Homo sapiens: one gene and its partners. The protein of the gene in region 2 interacts with the protein of the main gene of each other region in a biochemical or structural test. Each region holds a gene or a part of one and is shown on either strand. Other genes may lie near its edges.

What was found.
Region 1: the proteins of PTPA (region 2) and RACGAP1 form a complex in vitro, tested with the Homo sapiens proteins (one study listed by BioGRID).
Region 3: the proteins of PTPA (region 2) and CYLD form a complex in vitro, tested with the Homo sapiens proteins (one study listed by BioGRID).
Region 4: of the proteins of PTPA (region 2) and EIF4EBP1, one has a biochemical effect on the other in vitro, tested with the Homo sapiens proteins (one study listed by BioGRID).

What each region holds. Positions count from the first base shown.
Region 1 is NC_000012.12:49,997,995-50,001,494, reverse strand, and holds part of RACGAP1 (rac GTPase-activating protein 1), read left to right. Parts: intron 1-242; coding exon 243-323; intron 324-1,761; coding exon 1,762-1,879; intron 1,880-2,223; coding exon 2,224-2,354; intron 2,355-3,500.
Region 2 is NC_000009.12:129,117,915-129,121,414, reverse strand, and holds part of PTPA (serine/threonine-protein phosphatase 2A activator), read right to left. Parts: intron 903-3,500; coding exon 805-902; intron 1-804. UniProt on the Homo sapiens protein: PPIases accelerate the folding of proteins. It catalyzes the cis-trans isomerization of proline imidic peptide bonds in oligopeptides. Acts as a regulatory subunit for serine/threonine-protein phosphatase 2A (PP2A).
Region 3 is NC_000016.10:50,773,086-50,776,585, reverse strand, and holds part of CYLD (ubiquitin carboxyl-terminal hydrolase CYLD), read right to left. Parts: intron 1,421-3,500; coding exon 1,412-1,420; intron 408-1,411; coding exon 309-407; intron 1-308. UniProt on the Homo sapiens protein: Deubiquitinase that specifically cleaves 'Lys-63'- and linear 'Met-1'-linked polyubiquitin chains and is involved in NF-kappa-B activation and TNF-alpha-induced necroptosis.
Region 4 is NC_000008.11:38,033,534-38,037,033, forward strand, and holds part of EIF4EBP1 (eukaryotic translation initiation factor 4E-binding protein 1), read left to right. Parts: intron 1-3,500. UniProt on the Homo sapiens protein: Repressor of translation initiation that regulates EIF4E activity by preventing its assembly into the eIF4F complex: hypophosphorylated form competes with EIF4G1/EIF4G3 and strongly binds to EIF4E, leading to repress translation.

The DNA.
Region 1 (3,500 bases), on a different chromosome or scaffold from region 2:
CTCCATAGCTTGCTCATTTTTTCTAGGGCACTGAGAGCATTTTTGTACAACATATTCTTTTGAAACAGCTTATTCTTCATGTGGAAATAGGCAAAGAGAGAGAGAGAGAGAACACATTGTTTGTTATTTACTGTAGCCCTAATCCCCAGGACCTGTATCCAAGTTGTTTGATGGAATAATTTTATCTTCTGTGCTTCAGATCTGCTTGGCATTAAAGTTACGGGTCTTTGTCTCCTTTCTAGCGCTCTACTAGCCGACAGTTTGTTGATGGTCCCCCTGGACCTGTAAAGAAAACTCGTTCCATTGGCTCTGCAGTAGACCAGGTAAGAATAGTCAGGCCAAGGTAACAGAGATTACTGGCCCCAAGCATTAAAACTTCTCTGAGTCAGCATTGCAGCATTGTTTTGAGAGACATGATGTTTAGTTAAAGTTTTTGTTTGTTTTTTGAGACAGAGTTTTGTTCTTGTAGCCCAGGCTGGAGTGCAATGGCACCATCTTGGCTCACTGTAACCTCCACCTTCCAGGTTCAAGTGATTCTCTTGTCTCAGCCTCCCACGTAGCTGGGATTACAGGCGCATGCCACCACGTCTGGCTAATTTTTGTATTTTTAGTAGAGACAGGGTTTCATCATATTGGTCAGGCTGGTCTCGAACTCCTGACCAGGTGATCTACCTGCCTCAGCCTCCCAAAGTGCTGGGATTACAGGCGTGAGCCTCCGTGCCTGGCCTTTGGTTAAAGTTTTTCTATGCAGTAGGATCCTTATCCCTATGAATGGAATTACTCTGATGTAGTAAACAACTGTCAGAGTGAGTCTTAGTTGCTTGAATATATACCCCCATGACCTATGTTTATCTTCTTAGGTACGAGATTTCTTTATTTTTACTTTTTAAAGTAGAGGGGGAGTCTCTCCTTGCTGCCCAGGATGACTCGAACTGCGGGGCTCAAGTGATCTTCCCACCTTGGCCTCCCAAAATGCTGGGATTGCAGGCATGAGCCACTGCACCCAGCCAAACATCAGATTTCAACATAAGAATGTTTCAGGTCAGGCGTGGTGGCTCACGCCTGTAATCCCTGCACTTTGGGAGGCCTAGGCAGGTGGATGATCACCTGAGGTCAGGAGTTCGAGACCAGCCTGGTCAACATGGCGAAATCCCGTCTCTACTAAAAATACAAAAATCAGTCGGCCAGGCGCGGTGGCTCACGCCTGTAATCCTAGCACTTTGGGAGGCTGAGGCGGGTGGATCACGAGGTCAGGAGATTGAGACCATCCTGGCTAACACAGTGAAACCCCATCTCTACTAAAAATACAAAAAATTAGCTGGGCATGGTGGCAGACGCCTGTAGTCCCAGCTACTCGGGAGGCTGAGGCAGGAGAATGGCGTGAACCCGGGAGGTGGAGCTTGCAGTCAGCCGATATTGGGCCACTGTACTCCAGCGTGGGCGACACAGCGAGACTCCGTCTCAAAAAAAAAAAAATCAGTCAGGTGTGGTGGCGCATGCTTGTAATCCCAGCTACTCAGAAGGCTGAGGCAGGAGAATGCCTTGAACCTGGGAGGCGGAGGTTGCAGTGAGCCGAGATCACGCCACTGTTCTCCAGCCTGGGCGGTAGAGTGAAAAACTCTGTCTCAAAAAAAAAGTATCAGACTGGGGTCTTAAGTCTTGACTAAGACTAAGGAATTTTTTACCTGCTCCAAAATACCCTATAGTGGAGGGTAAGTTAGATTCTTTGTTTGTCTTTCCTCATTACTACTTTTGTTGCAGGGGAATGAATCCATAGTTGCAAAAACTACAGTGACTGTTCCCAATGATGGCGGGCCCATCGAAGCTGTGTCCACTATTGAGACTGTGCCATATTGGACCAGGAGCCGAAGGAAAACAGGTCCATTGAATTTGTGACTAAACTGGCCTGTGTAAAACAACTAGCAAAATTTTGGAGAGTTGGTTTCTTAGAACCCTCTGGAGGCGGGGATTGGATGTATTGGGTAGTTTCTTACTGCTGCATACCGAGGACCAGAGAACTGCTTGTGTCATGCTTTACCTTTGAATTGCTAGCCCACTGGCATAACTTTAGTTTTTCTTGAAACTGTTTTTTTACATAGCCATTAGTTCTCACTTTTGGCTATGATAACAGATTACTGTTTATCTCCCAGTTAAAATTGGAGCTAAAATTTAGAAGGAGCAAAATACTTAAGACACAAAGCTTAAAAGTTGCTTGTTTTCTAGGTACTTTACAACCTTGGAACAGTGACTCCACCCTGAACAGCAGGCAGCTGGAGCCAAGAACTGAGACAGACAGTGTGGGCACGCCACAGAGTAATGGAGGGATGCGCCTGCATGACTTTGTTTCTAAGACGGTAAATCTGTGATTGTTGTTTGTGTTTTAATTTTTTAATTGTGAAAGTAATAAATACCAGGAATAAAGTTAAATACTTTAGTGTTATAAAGTTAAATGTCAAATTTCCTTCCTCATTCCAATTTTACTCTCCAGAAGTAACTATTGGTTACAGAGGTAAGTTTCTTTCCATTCTGTGAGTAATACTAAATTAAAGAGACCAACTTTTCTGAAGCAATTGTTAGTACTTTTTTTTTTTTAATTTGAGACAGAGTCTTACTCTGTCACCCAGGCTGGAGTGCAGGGGTGTAATCATAGCTCACTGTAGCCTTAACCTCCCAGTCTCAAGCAATCCTCCTGCCTCAGCCTCCTGAGTAGTAGGGATACAGATGTGTGCCACCACGCCCGGCTAATTTTTAAATTTTTTGTAGAGACTTGGTCTTGCTATGTTGCTCAGGCTGGTCCTGAACTCCTGGGCTCAAGTGCTCCCCCTGCCTCAGCTCCCAAAGTCCTGGGATTACAGGCATGAGCTACTGTGCCTGGCCCATTGTTAGTACTTTTTAGTGACACATGTTTACATTTTTTCTTGAATATATCACCTAAGATTTTCAAAATGTTTTGCTTTTGTACCATTTTATTTCCTTATAAAAATCCAAGCAAATTAACTGAGGCTCAGAGGAGTTAACTGACATTTTTGAGCCACATGATAGTAAGTGACAGATTTCACATCCAGGTTTTCTTTTTTTCTTTTTTTTTCTTGAGACAGAGTCTCACTCTGTTGCCCAGGCTGGAGTGCAGTGGTGCGATTTCGGCTCACTGCAACCTCTGCCTCCCGGGTTCAAGCAATCCTCCTGCCTCAGCCTCCCGAGTAGCTGGGATTACAGGTGCCCACCACCATGCCCGGCCAATTTTTTGTACTTTTAGTAGAGATGGGGTTTCACCATGTTGGCCAGGCTGGTCTCAAACTACTGACCTCAGGTGATCCTCCCGCCTCAGCCTCCCAAAGTGCTGGGATTACAGGCGTGAGCCACCATGCCCTGCCAACATCCAAGTTTTCTGCTCTTTGTAAACAAGTTCTTTCCACTATCACACACTGCTGCCTTCCAGTGGGATGACCTTAAACAAGTTACTTAAACTCTCTTTGCTTCTGTTTCCTCATCTTAAAATG
Region 2 (3,500 bases):
CTGAGAGGGCAGGCTTGTGAAAAAGGAATCAGACAGGTTTAGATGGCCCCAAGCCCCAGTGAGGACAAGGCATAGAAGCTGTAGGGTGTGGGTCTCCTGGAGAATCTGCCCAGCATGCAAGGACCCCTGTGCCCAGCCTTCTGCATGAGCAACACTCTCCAGCCCAGCTCACCAGGCCGGGAGCAGGAGCCTGACGAGAACTGGGCCAGAGGCCTTCCCTGAGAAATTGAAATTGGCTTTCTTTTGCTCAGTCTGTCTTTCCACAGCCTGTACCACAAGCCTGAGAGGTACAAGTAGTTATCTTCTGCCCATCATTTCAGCTGAGCAGCAGAGAAAGCCAGTCTGTGCCCAGTGCTCTGGGTCCCAGCTCCCAGGTATTTGCAGGCTTAGCCATATCCCTGGCCAAAGTTTCCATGAGATAGCCTCTTCTCCCCTTGAGGCACTGGCTGCCACACTTGCTGTTACTTGCAGCCAAGAATCAAAGTGACTCGCTCCATCATTTCAAACACTCATGTTCAGCCAATACAGCAACACTCAAGGGGCAATGGCTTAAGAGAACCAGGAGCGGAACTCTCCCGGGCTACCCTGGCAGCAGCCTGAAAAAGTAGGCAACCTTCCTGATAAAGCATCTCTGAGTACTGCCTCTGAAGGGAAGAGACAGCCAGCTCCCCTGTCACCTTTCTCCCTAGCTTCTGAAAAGTCAGGCTCCAAGAGCAAGAAGGGCCAGGAACTCACCGCCCGTCATGCTAGGAAAACCACTGTCTTTGAAAAGCCCAAGTTTCTCACCACAGTTCCAAATGGTACCTGAGAACGCTTCCATTTGCCCATGTCTGGAACTGTGTGGATCTCCTTTTTTGGAATGATGAAGTTCTGAGTGGCTGGAGGGGCCTCCTCTGAAGAATCTTGACAAAAAAAAATGAAAAAACAAACAGATAAATAGAATCCTCCCCTACAACACACACACTCCCTTTCACCTTTTTTTTTTTTCTTGAGACGGAGTTTTGCTCTTGTTGCCCAGGCTGGAGTCCAGTGACACGATCTTGGCTCAATGCAACCTCCACCTCCAGGGTTCAAGCGATTCTCCTGCCTCAGTCTCCTGAGTAGCTGAGATTACAGGCACGTGCCACCACACCCAGCTAATTTTTTTTTTTTTCTTTGAGACAGAGTCTCGCTCTGTCGCCCAGGCTGGAGTGCAGTGGCGCGATCTCAGCTCACTGCAACCTCTGCCTCCCGGGTTCAAGCGATTCTCCTGCCTCAGTGTTCTGAGTAGCTGGGATTACAGACGTATGTCACCATGCCTAGCTAATTTTTGCATTTTTAGTAGAGACGGGGTTTCACCATGTTGGCCAGGCTGATCGCAAACTCCTGACCTCAGGTGATCCACCCGCCTTGGCCTCCAAAGTGTTGGGATTACAGGTATGAGCCAAAGCGCCCGGCCTCTCTCTCACTTTTAAACCAGGACTCCAACACCTGAGCCTTAGAATAAACCAGACACATACTTCCAGGACAGAGTAAGGGCTTGTTAAGCCAAACCCACAGCCTCCTGCCCTCCCTCACTCTGGGGAGGAAAGAGAAGGGCAATACTGACAATCCCTTCAATAACCATGCCCTCCCTTCCCTCTCCCCCCCAGAGCAGAACCGTTAGAAAAATAAAACCAAGTTGATGTTTCAGACATACACAGGCAATTCACAGAAGAAAAAAAAACAGGTCAGGTGCGGTGGCTCACGCCTGTAATCCCAGCACTTTGGGAGGCCAAGGCAGGCAGATCACAAGGTAAGGAGATCGAGACCATCCTGGCTAACATGGTGAAATCCCATCTCTACTAAAAAAGTACAAAAAAATTAGCCAGGCGTGGTGGCGGGCGCCTGCGGTCCCAGCTACTTGGGAGGCTGAGGCAGAAGAATGGCGTGAACCTGGGAGGCGGAGCTTGTGGTGAGCCGAGATTGCACCACTGCACTCCAACCCAGGCAACAGAGCGAGACTTCGTCTCAAAAAAAAAAAAAAAACCTAATTGCAGTAAACATTTGGAATAAATTGCCAACCTCCTGAATAAGCACGGACACGTAAATTATATGTGATTTCTCTTTCTGGATAAGGTTGGCAAATTAAAAACATCTGGCTAGGTGTGGTGGCTCATACCTAATCCCAGCAATTTGGGAGGCCAAGGCAGGCAGATCACTTGAGGCCAGGGGTTCAAGACCAGGCTGGCCAACTTGGCAAAACGCCATCTTTACAAAAAAAATTTAAAAATTAGCTGGGTGTGGTTGCATACCTGTAGTCCCAGCTACTTGGGAGGCTGAAGCAGGAGGATCACCTGAGTCCAGGAGGTGGGGGTTGCAGTGAGCTGAGATCATACCACTGCACTCCAGCCTGGACAACAGAACGAGACTCTGTCTCAATAAAAACAAAACAAGATTCCAGGAAGAGGAAACAAGAATTCTCCCGCTCTGTGGGTGGGAAGGACCTCCTAAGGGGACAATCTTTTGGAATAAAAAACTGCATATACACAATGAGTCAACAGGTCTACTTACAGGAATCTATCTTTCAGATGTGCTCACGGAAACACAAAGGTGTTTAATGCATCAAAAAAAAAAAAAAAAGCTGGGCATAGTGGCTCACACCTGTAATCTCAGCACTTTGGGAGCCCCAGGTGGGAGGATCACTTGAGTCCAGGAGTTTGACACCAACCTGGGCAACACAGCGAGACCCCATCTCTACTTTAAAAAAAAAAAAATTTTAGGCGGGGCGCGGTGGCTCATGCCTACAATCCCAGCACTTTGGGAGGCCAAAGTGGGTGGATCACACCTGAGGTCAGGAGTTGGAGATGCGCCTGACCAACATAGTGAAACCCCATTTCTACTAAAAATATAAAATTATTCAGGTGTGGTGGCGCATGCCTATAATCCCAGCTACTTGGGAGGCTGAGGAAGGAGAATTGCTTGAACCAGGAGGCAGAGGTTGCAGTGAGCCAAGATCGTGCCATCGCACTCCAGCCTAGGCAACAAGAGTGAAACTCTGACTCAAATAAAAAAATTTTTTATTAATTAGAAACAACCCAAATAGGCTGGGCGTGGTGGCTCACACCTGTAATCCCAGCACTTTGGGAGGCCAAGACAGGCAGATCACGAGATCAGGAGTTCGAAACCAGCCTGGCCAACAAGGTGAAACCCCATCTCTACTAAAAATACAAAAATTAGCCAAGTGTGGTGGCGCACACCTGTAATCCTAGCTACTCAGGAGGCTGAGGCAGGAGAATTGCCTGAACCCAGGAGGCAGAGGTTACAGTGAGCTGAGATCGTGCCATTGCGCTCCAGCTCTGGTTGACAGAGCAAGACTCCATCTCGGGGGAAAAAAAAAAAAAAGAAACAACTCAAATATCAGTTGATAAGACAATGGGTAAATAATGATATGCCCAGGTCCGGCATGGTGACTCACACCTGTAATCCCAGAACTTTGGGAGGCTGAGGTAGGTGGATCATTTGAGGTCAGGAGTTCCAGA
Region 3 (3,500 bases), on a different chromosome or scaffold from region 2:
TTTTACACAGTTGCAATCCTAAACTATACATACAAATATTCCAAGTAAGGAGTTCCAAAAACCATTTGATTATAGACCAGCAAAACACACAAGACCCTATGGGGAACTCTTCCTGAGGTAAAAAAGGCTGGGAACACTTGGCTTAAGCAACAGTATTTATATACAAACTTTAGTTTCACTACTAAAAATGTTTGAAAGAAAAAAAGTCTACATACATGTTCAGAAGTAATAGCTTATAATCTTTTTTAATGCTATGGCAAGTTAGGCATTATGCAAATTACTAAAGGTTATATGCTATTAATCCATACCTGTAGCCTTTGGTTTATTATGACTGGATGAACCTTTGTCCCCAACACCTCTTGACATAAAGGCAAGTTTGGGAGGCCTCCTTTCCTGCGTCACACTCTCTGAAACAGTAAGCATGTTTTTTAAAGATAAAGGCAAATTCTTATAGAAGAGAAACAAGGAATGACAGTAACAAAATAAAAAAACCCTCTTTCCACAAAAAGGCAGAATTTTTAGTTTTACAAATGCCTTTTAAAGGCCATCAAAAGTATTGAAAAAGATAATACTATGGGGGAAAAAACCAATGCTGTATTTCAAAATGTAATTTCTATAAGAAAATACCCTCTCAAAATACAATTCAGCTAAATGCTTTAACCTCTTGAAAATTTAATCACTTGTAGTCAATTTTATTTGATCTCTTAAAACACTACAAAGAAAATCTTACTCGGTTTTTTACAGCATTTCCCAAATCAGCAGGCTTAGAACACCCCTGTGTATTATGAAGTGTTTCGAACTCAAATATTTCTTGAAGATGCTGAGATAAACAAAGATAAACAATTTCTTTACTGCACGGAACCAGAGCCTTTAATATGCTAATGTGCATTGTGAACTGCTCAGGGAGAAACAAAATAAACTTATTGATAAAAATTTTTGTGCCACTTTGCTTAGCATCTCAGATTAATATTATTTCATGAACACAGTTTGAAAAAAGCCTGGTTAGGAATATGTATCATGGTTAGGAAAGAAAGTTCTGGTTAAGAACATATATCTGTTTTTAAAAACATATATGTTAAGAATAACACAGATGTGTATACAAACACTTATACATATAAAAGAGGAAAACATAGAGAATTATGCATAGATTAAAAATACAGAAAGCCAGAGACACACAACAATAATATATTTGAAGAAAACACTCACAATTATTTCTGAAATATAGGTGTAATAAGTGTGGCAAACTTGTTTTGAATACAAAGACCACTCTAGACCTTAAAGCCCAGCAATGATCATAGAATACTCCTAAATACTGATCAAGGGAATGTAGAAGAGGCAGTGTGAAAAGTTCTTCCTTTGAAAAATTCAACAATACATCCGTGGAGTCCAACACGACACTTAGGAGTCATACCTGATAAAGCTGTGTGTCAGCAAAAACGATATCACCCACAGTGGATTTGAGGACAGAAAGAAAGAAATAGGAAAATTTTTACATTTTAAACACAAGGAAAAGACTTTTCTTAAAAAAAGAGGAAATTTACTAAATGAATTATATGTAAATACTTGGTAACTTTTTTCCATGGTTGAAAGAGGAGGGGGATGTGTTATTAAACTATATCTTAAACATCTCATAATATGATCCAATAGAATATGAAAATATTTTAATTCAAAAATTATACCAATTAACCACGATTTCGATCAAGTGATATAATAAGAGAAAAGCTATGTACTAATACTGTGGTCCCCACTTATCCACACTTTTACCTTCCACGGTATCAGTTACCCACAGTCAACCACTGTCCAAAAATATTAAATAAAAAATTGCAGAAACAGACAATTCGTAAGTTTTAAGTTGCATGCTGTTTTGAGTATTATAACGAAATCTTGCACCATCCTAATCCATAACCCCTGACGTAACCCATCCCCGTCCAGCATCTCCACACTGTGTCTACTCCCTGCCTTGTTAGTCACTTAGTAGCCACCTCAGTCATCAGATCAACTATTGCAGTATCACAGTGCTTACATTCAAGTCACCCTTATTTTACTTAATAATAGTCCTGAAGTACACGAGTAGTGATGTTGCCATATTGTTATTATTGTCTCTTCTCTGATTATTGTTTTCAATATCTTATTGTGCCTAATATATAAATTAAACTTTATCAGAGGCATGAATGTAGAGGAAAAACACAGTATACGTAGGGTTCAGTACTATCCATAGTTTCAGGTATCCACTGGGGGTCTTGGAAGTATCCCTTGATGAAAGAGGAGACCACTGTTCTTTTATGATGTTGTCATTCAGATATCTTTAAATAGCACCCATGACAGATACTTCAGAAGGAAAATCTTAGTCACTGAGAAGAGTTCCTAAATTATAGCATATAAATTTCCTAAAGAAAAACAACTCCCACTATTAACTGTAATTAACTGCATATAACATTTTTAAAGTATGTTCACATGTATACCACGATATAGATCCATTATATAGTTAGTAACCATTATAACAAATGAAGCAAGTGCTCTTCCCTTTGTTAGGCTTTGAAGGTAGCCTGGCAGGACTGGAGAGCCAACTGGATGGCCGGTGGTGACAGTTCTGCAGGTGACACTAGGGAGGAGCTCCAAAGATTAGGAATGTGAGCAGGGGGGCACTGGAGTTGGAAACTGTGGCTACCTTCTGTCAAAGGCTGTCTGAGAGGGGGTCAAATATCAGCTCTGAAGAAGAAGACATTCCATCAGAATTCTATACAGACAAAGGGGCACAAACCACCTCTAATTGCCCTCCAGCAATTACACACCAAATATTTCTTATTACTTTGTCACAACTGTGTTCATGGCCCAAAACTACTTGGGTCATGAAGCAAAGCTTTCAAAGTTAAATGAATTATAAGTGATTACCAACTCAGAAAAAGATAAATATGGGATGGAAAGCAAGGTAAGATAAATTCAGCTGGCAATTTTGTGTGATTAAAACAAACCTGATTAAAGATATTAAAAGATATAGAAGATAATTCCACCAAACAGCATGAGTAAAAATGTACAGAGCAGCCCTATTCATTCTAATCAAAAGCTGGAAACAAGCTATTCTACAGAAGAATAGAGAAACAAATTATGGTCTATTCATACAATGGAATACTACATAGCAATAAAAAAGGAACAAACTACTGATAAACAGGGCAACATGGACATTGTGTTCAGCAAAAGAAACCAAACCAAAAGTATCCATTATGTATACACAGCAAGATTGCATTTAAATGATAAAATTCACAGCTTATCCATCACTTGTTGATTTAACCAGAAAAAGAAAAATCCCTTGGAGAATCTTGAGCAGGAAATCATAACAATAAACTAGTGAACAAGTTATTGTTCAAATCAAATGAAATGTCTATGAATTTGAATGACCCAGTAAATTAAGAGAAATTGTTTAATTAATGTACCGCTTAACATCAGCAGCCACAAGAGCATAATTCAGACTCAAATGAGAATTTAACATCCACAGAAATCTT
Region 4 (3,500 bases), on a different chromosome or scaffold from region 2:
GTGTGGAGAGCCAGGCTTTTGATAGAGTGTCTGCATGGCTGTCTGCACCTGCTTACTTATAGGGACTGTCAGCTTCTCAGGAAAAACCATTGGAGTAAGTACCCCCCAGTCACTCCTGCTGGGAATGGCCCTCAAGTGATTGTCCCTGGAGGGAAAGAAGCAGCAGTTGGGTTGCACTATCTCCATTCCTATGACTCCAGTTTGCTTTCCTTTTTTTTTTTTTTTTTTTTTGAGATGGAGTTTCGCTTTGTCGCCCAAGCTGGAGTGCAATGGTGAGATCTTGGCTCACTGCAAGCTCCGCCTCCCGGGTTCACGCCATTCTCTTGCCTCAGCCTCCCAAGTAGCTGGGACTACAGGCGCCCGCGATCAAGCCCGGCTGATTTTTTGTGTTTTTAGTAGAGACAGGGTTTCACCGTGTTAGCCAGGATGGTCTCGATCTCCTGACCTCGTGATCCGCCTGCATTGGCCTCCCAAAGTACTGGGATTACAGGCGTGAGCCACTGCACCCGGCCCTTTTTTTGTTTTTTTCCTGAGACAGGGTCTCATGGTGTCACCCAGGCTGGAGTACAGTGGCACAAACATAGCTCACTGCAGTCTCAAACTCCTGGGCTCAAGTGATCCTCCTGCCTCAGCCTTGCAAGTAGCTGGGACTATAGGCACGTGCCACCATGCCCTGCTAATTTTTTTATTTTTTTGTAGAGGCAGGGTCTCTATGTATTACCCAGGCTGGCCTCAAACTCCTGGGCTCAAGCAGTCCTCCCACCTCAGCCTCCCAAACTGCTGGGATTGTAGGCATGAGTCACCTCACCTGGCCTCCAGTTTGCTTTCCATGGTCATTAACCATTTGCACACTGAGGCTCTGCTCTGAGGTTAGCTGTCCAGAGTACTTAAGATAATTTAATTGCCGAAGGGAGTGTCATGTATGAATATTTGAGTCTGTGGAGTCTTAAAAATATCCAGCGACACCATAAACAGCTCATTAGCCAGCAGAACCTTTGAGTGGGTCAGAAAGAAACTTTCCCTCATCAATCTCCACATTCCCAGCTCCGTGTTGCATGTTTGACTCTGAAGCCTATATACAGGCTTGGATGGCAGTTGTGCCAAAGACCCGTACCTGGATAAGGTGAATCCGAGGTGAGCAGGTAGGGCTGCAGGTGTTAATGGCACCCTGTTTGGTTAAGCAAACAAGGTCTGTGCCCAGGAAGCTTACCTTGGAGCAGCTCCCAAGTCTTTGGACATGAAACAGGCAGTGCTGGGAAGAAGGGGATGTAGGCTGGGCACCAAAGCCAGAGCACAGCCCATGTCCTGAGGCCTTAGTCACATGGAGGGAAGAAATTATTAAGGATGGGTTAAAAGAGCTTGGACATTAATGCAGTGAGGGAGAAACGATGGACCCTCTTCTCACATTTACCTGAGCTTCCTTTTAAAGTGTTTGAAGGAGCTGGGTGCGGTGGCTCACTCCTGTAATCCCAGCTATTAGGAAGGCTGAGACAGGAAAATTACTTGAGGCCAGGAGTTCAAGACCAGCCTGAGCAACATAGTGAGACTCTGTCGGTATAAATTAAATAAATAAAATTTTTTAAAGTGTTGGAAGCATTCCACACTGTGTCCCTTATTAAAGATTTGGTGGGGGGTTCCTGGTGTAGAGCACTCCAAAATCCCTCCAATCCCCAGACTCCTTTTTATTATTATTATTATTTTGAGACAGAGTTTCGCTCTTGTTGCCCAGGCTGGAGTGCAGTGGTGCAATCTTGGCACACTGCAACCTACGCCTCCTGGGTTCAAGTGATTCTCCTGCCTCAGCCTCCCAAGTAGCTGGGATTACAGGCATGTGCCACCACACCCGGCTAATTTTTGTATTTTTATTAGAGACAGGGTTTCACCATGTTAGTCAGGCTGGTCTCAAACTCCTGACCTCAGGTGATCCACCCGCCTCAGCTTCCCAAAGTGCTGGGATTACAGGCATGAGCCACCACACCCGGCCTTATTATTTTATTTTATTTTATTTTATTTTTGAGGCAGTCTAACTCTGTCGCCCAGGCTAGAGTGCAGTGGCATGATTTCAGCTCACTGCAGCCTCCACCTGCCAGGTTCAGGCTGAGACAGGAGAATCCCGGGTAGCTGGGATGACAGGCACGCACCACCATGCCCAGCTAATTATTTATTTATTTATTTATTTATTATTATTTTCCTCAAGATGGAGCCTTGCTCTGTCGCCCAGGCTGGAGTGCAATGGTGCGATCTCGGCTCACTGCAACCTCCACCTCCTGGGTTCAAGCAATTCTCCTGCCTCAGCCTCCCGAATAGCTGGGTTTACAGGCGCGCTACCACGCCTGGCTAATTTTTTGTATTTTTAGTAGAGATGGGGTTTCACCACGTTGGCCAGGCTGGTCTCGAACTCCTGACCTCGTGATCCGCCCGCCTCAGCCTCCCAAAGTGCTGACATTACAGCCATGAGTCACCGCGCCCGGCCTATTTTATTTTATTTTTGAGGCAGAGTCTCATTCTGTCACCCAGGCTGGAGTGCAGTGGCACCGTCTCAGCTCACTGCAGCATCCGCCTCCTGAGTTCAAGCAATTCTCCTGCCTCGGCCTCCCGAGTAGCTGGGACCACAAACCCGGCTATTTATTTTTGTAGAGACAGGGTCATGCTTTGCTTCTGAGTCTGACCCTCTAGTTTTTTATTATTTGAAAGGAGAGGCCAGGTGCGATGGCTCACACCTGTAATCCCAGCACTTTGGGAGGCTAAGCAGATCACCTGAGGTCAGGAGTTCAAGACCAGCTTGGCCAACATGGTGAAACCCCATCTCTAATAAAAATACAAAAAAAAATTAGCCGGGCCTGGTGGCAGGCGCCTGTAATCCCAGCTACACAGGAGGCTGAGGCACGAGACTCACTCGAACGATTCTGGGTGACAAGAGTGAAACTCCGTCTCAAAGAAAAAAGAGAGAGAGTTTGATTTTTTTGCTTCCTAAAAGACCAAAAAAGTCCTTCATTGCCAAATCTGAGGAAAAAGGGTCAGCAGAGCAATACCATATTTATCCATTGACATAAAGTAGCGAGGCATTTTCTCATATAGACCTTTATTTTCATGTTCTGGAAGATGAGTTAGGAAGGCACAGCAATATTGTTTCTTCTTTTTTTTTTAATTTGAAACAGGGTCTCACTTTGTCACCCAGGCTGGAGTGCAGTTGCAGCCTCAACCTCCTGGGCTCAAGCAATCCTCCCATCTCAGCCTCCCAAGTAGCTGGGACTACAGGCATGCACCACCACAACCGGCTAATTTTTGTATTTTTTGGTAGAGATGAGGTTTCGCCATGTTGCCCAGGCTGGCCTCAAACTCCTGAGCTCAAGTAATCCACCCGCCTTGACCTCCCAAAGTTCTGGGATTAGAGGCATGCTCCACTGTGCTTGGCCTGGGAAGGCACAGCAATATTGAAAAAAAGGAACATTGCTTTCTAAGGTGAGTTTTAAAAAAAAAAAATGTTCAGTTGTGCACAT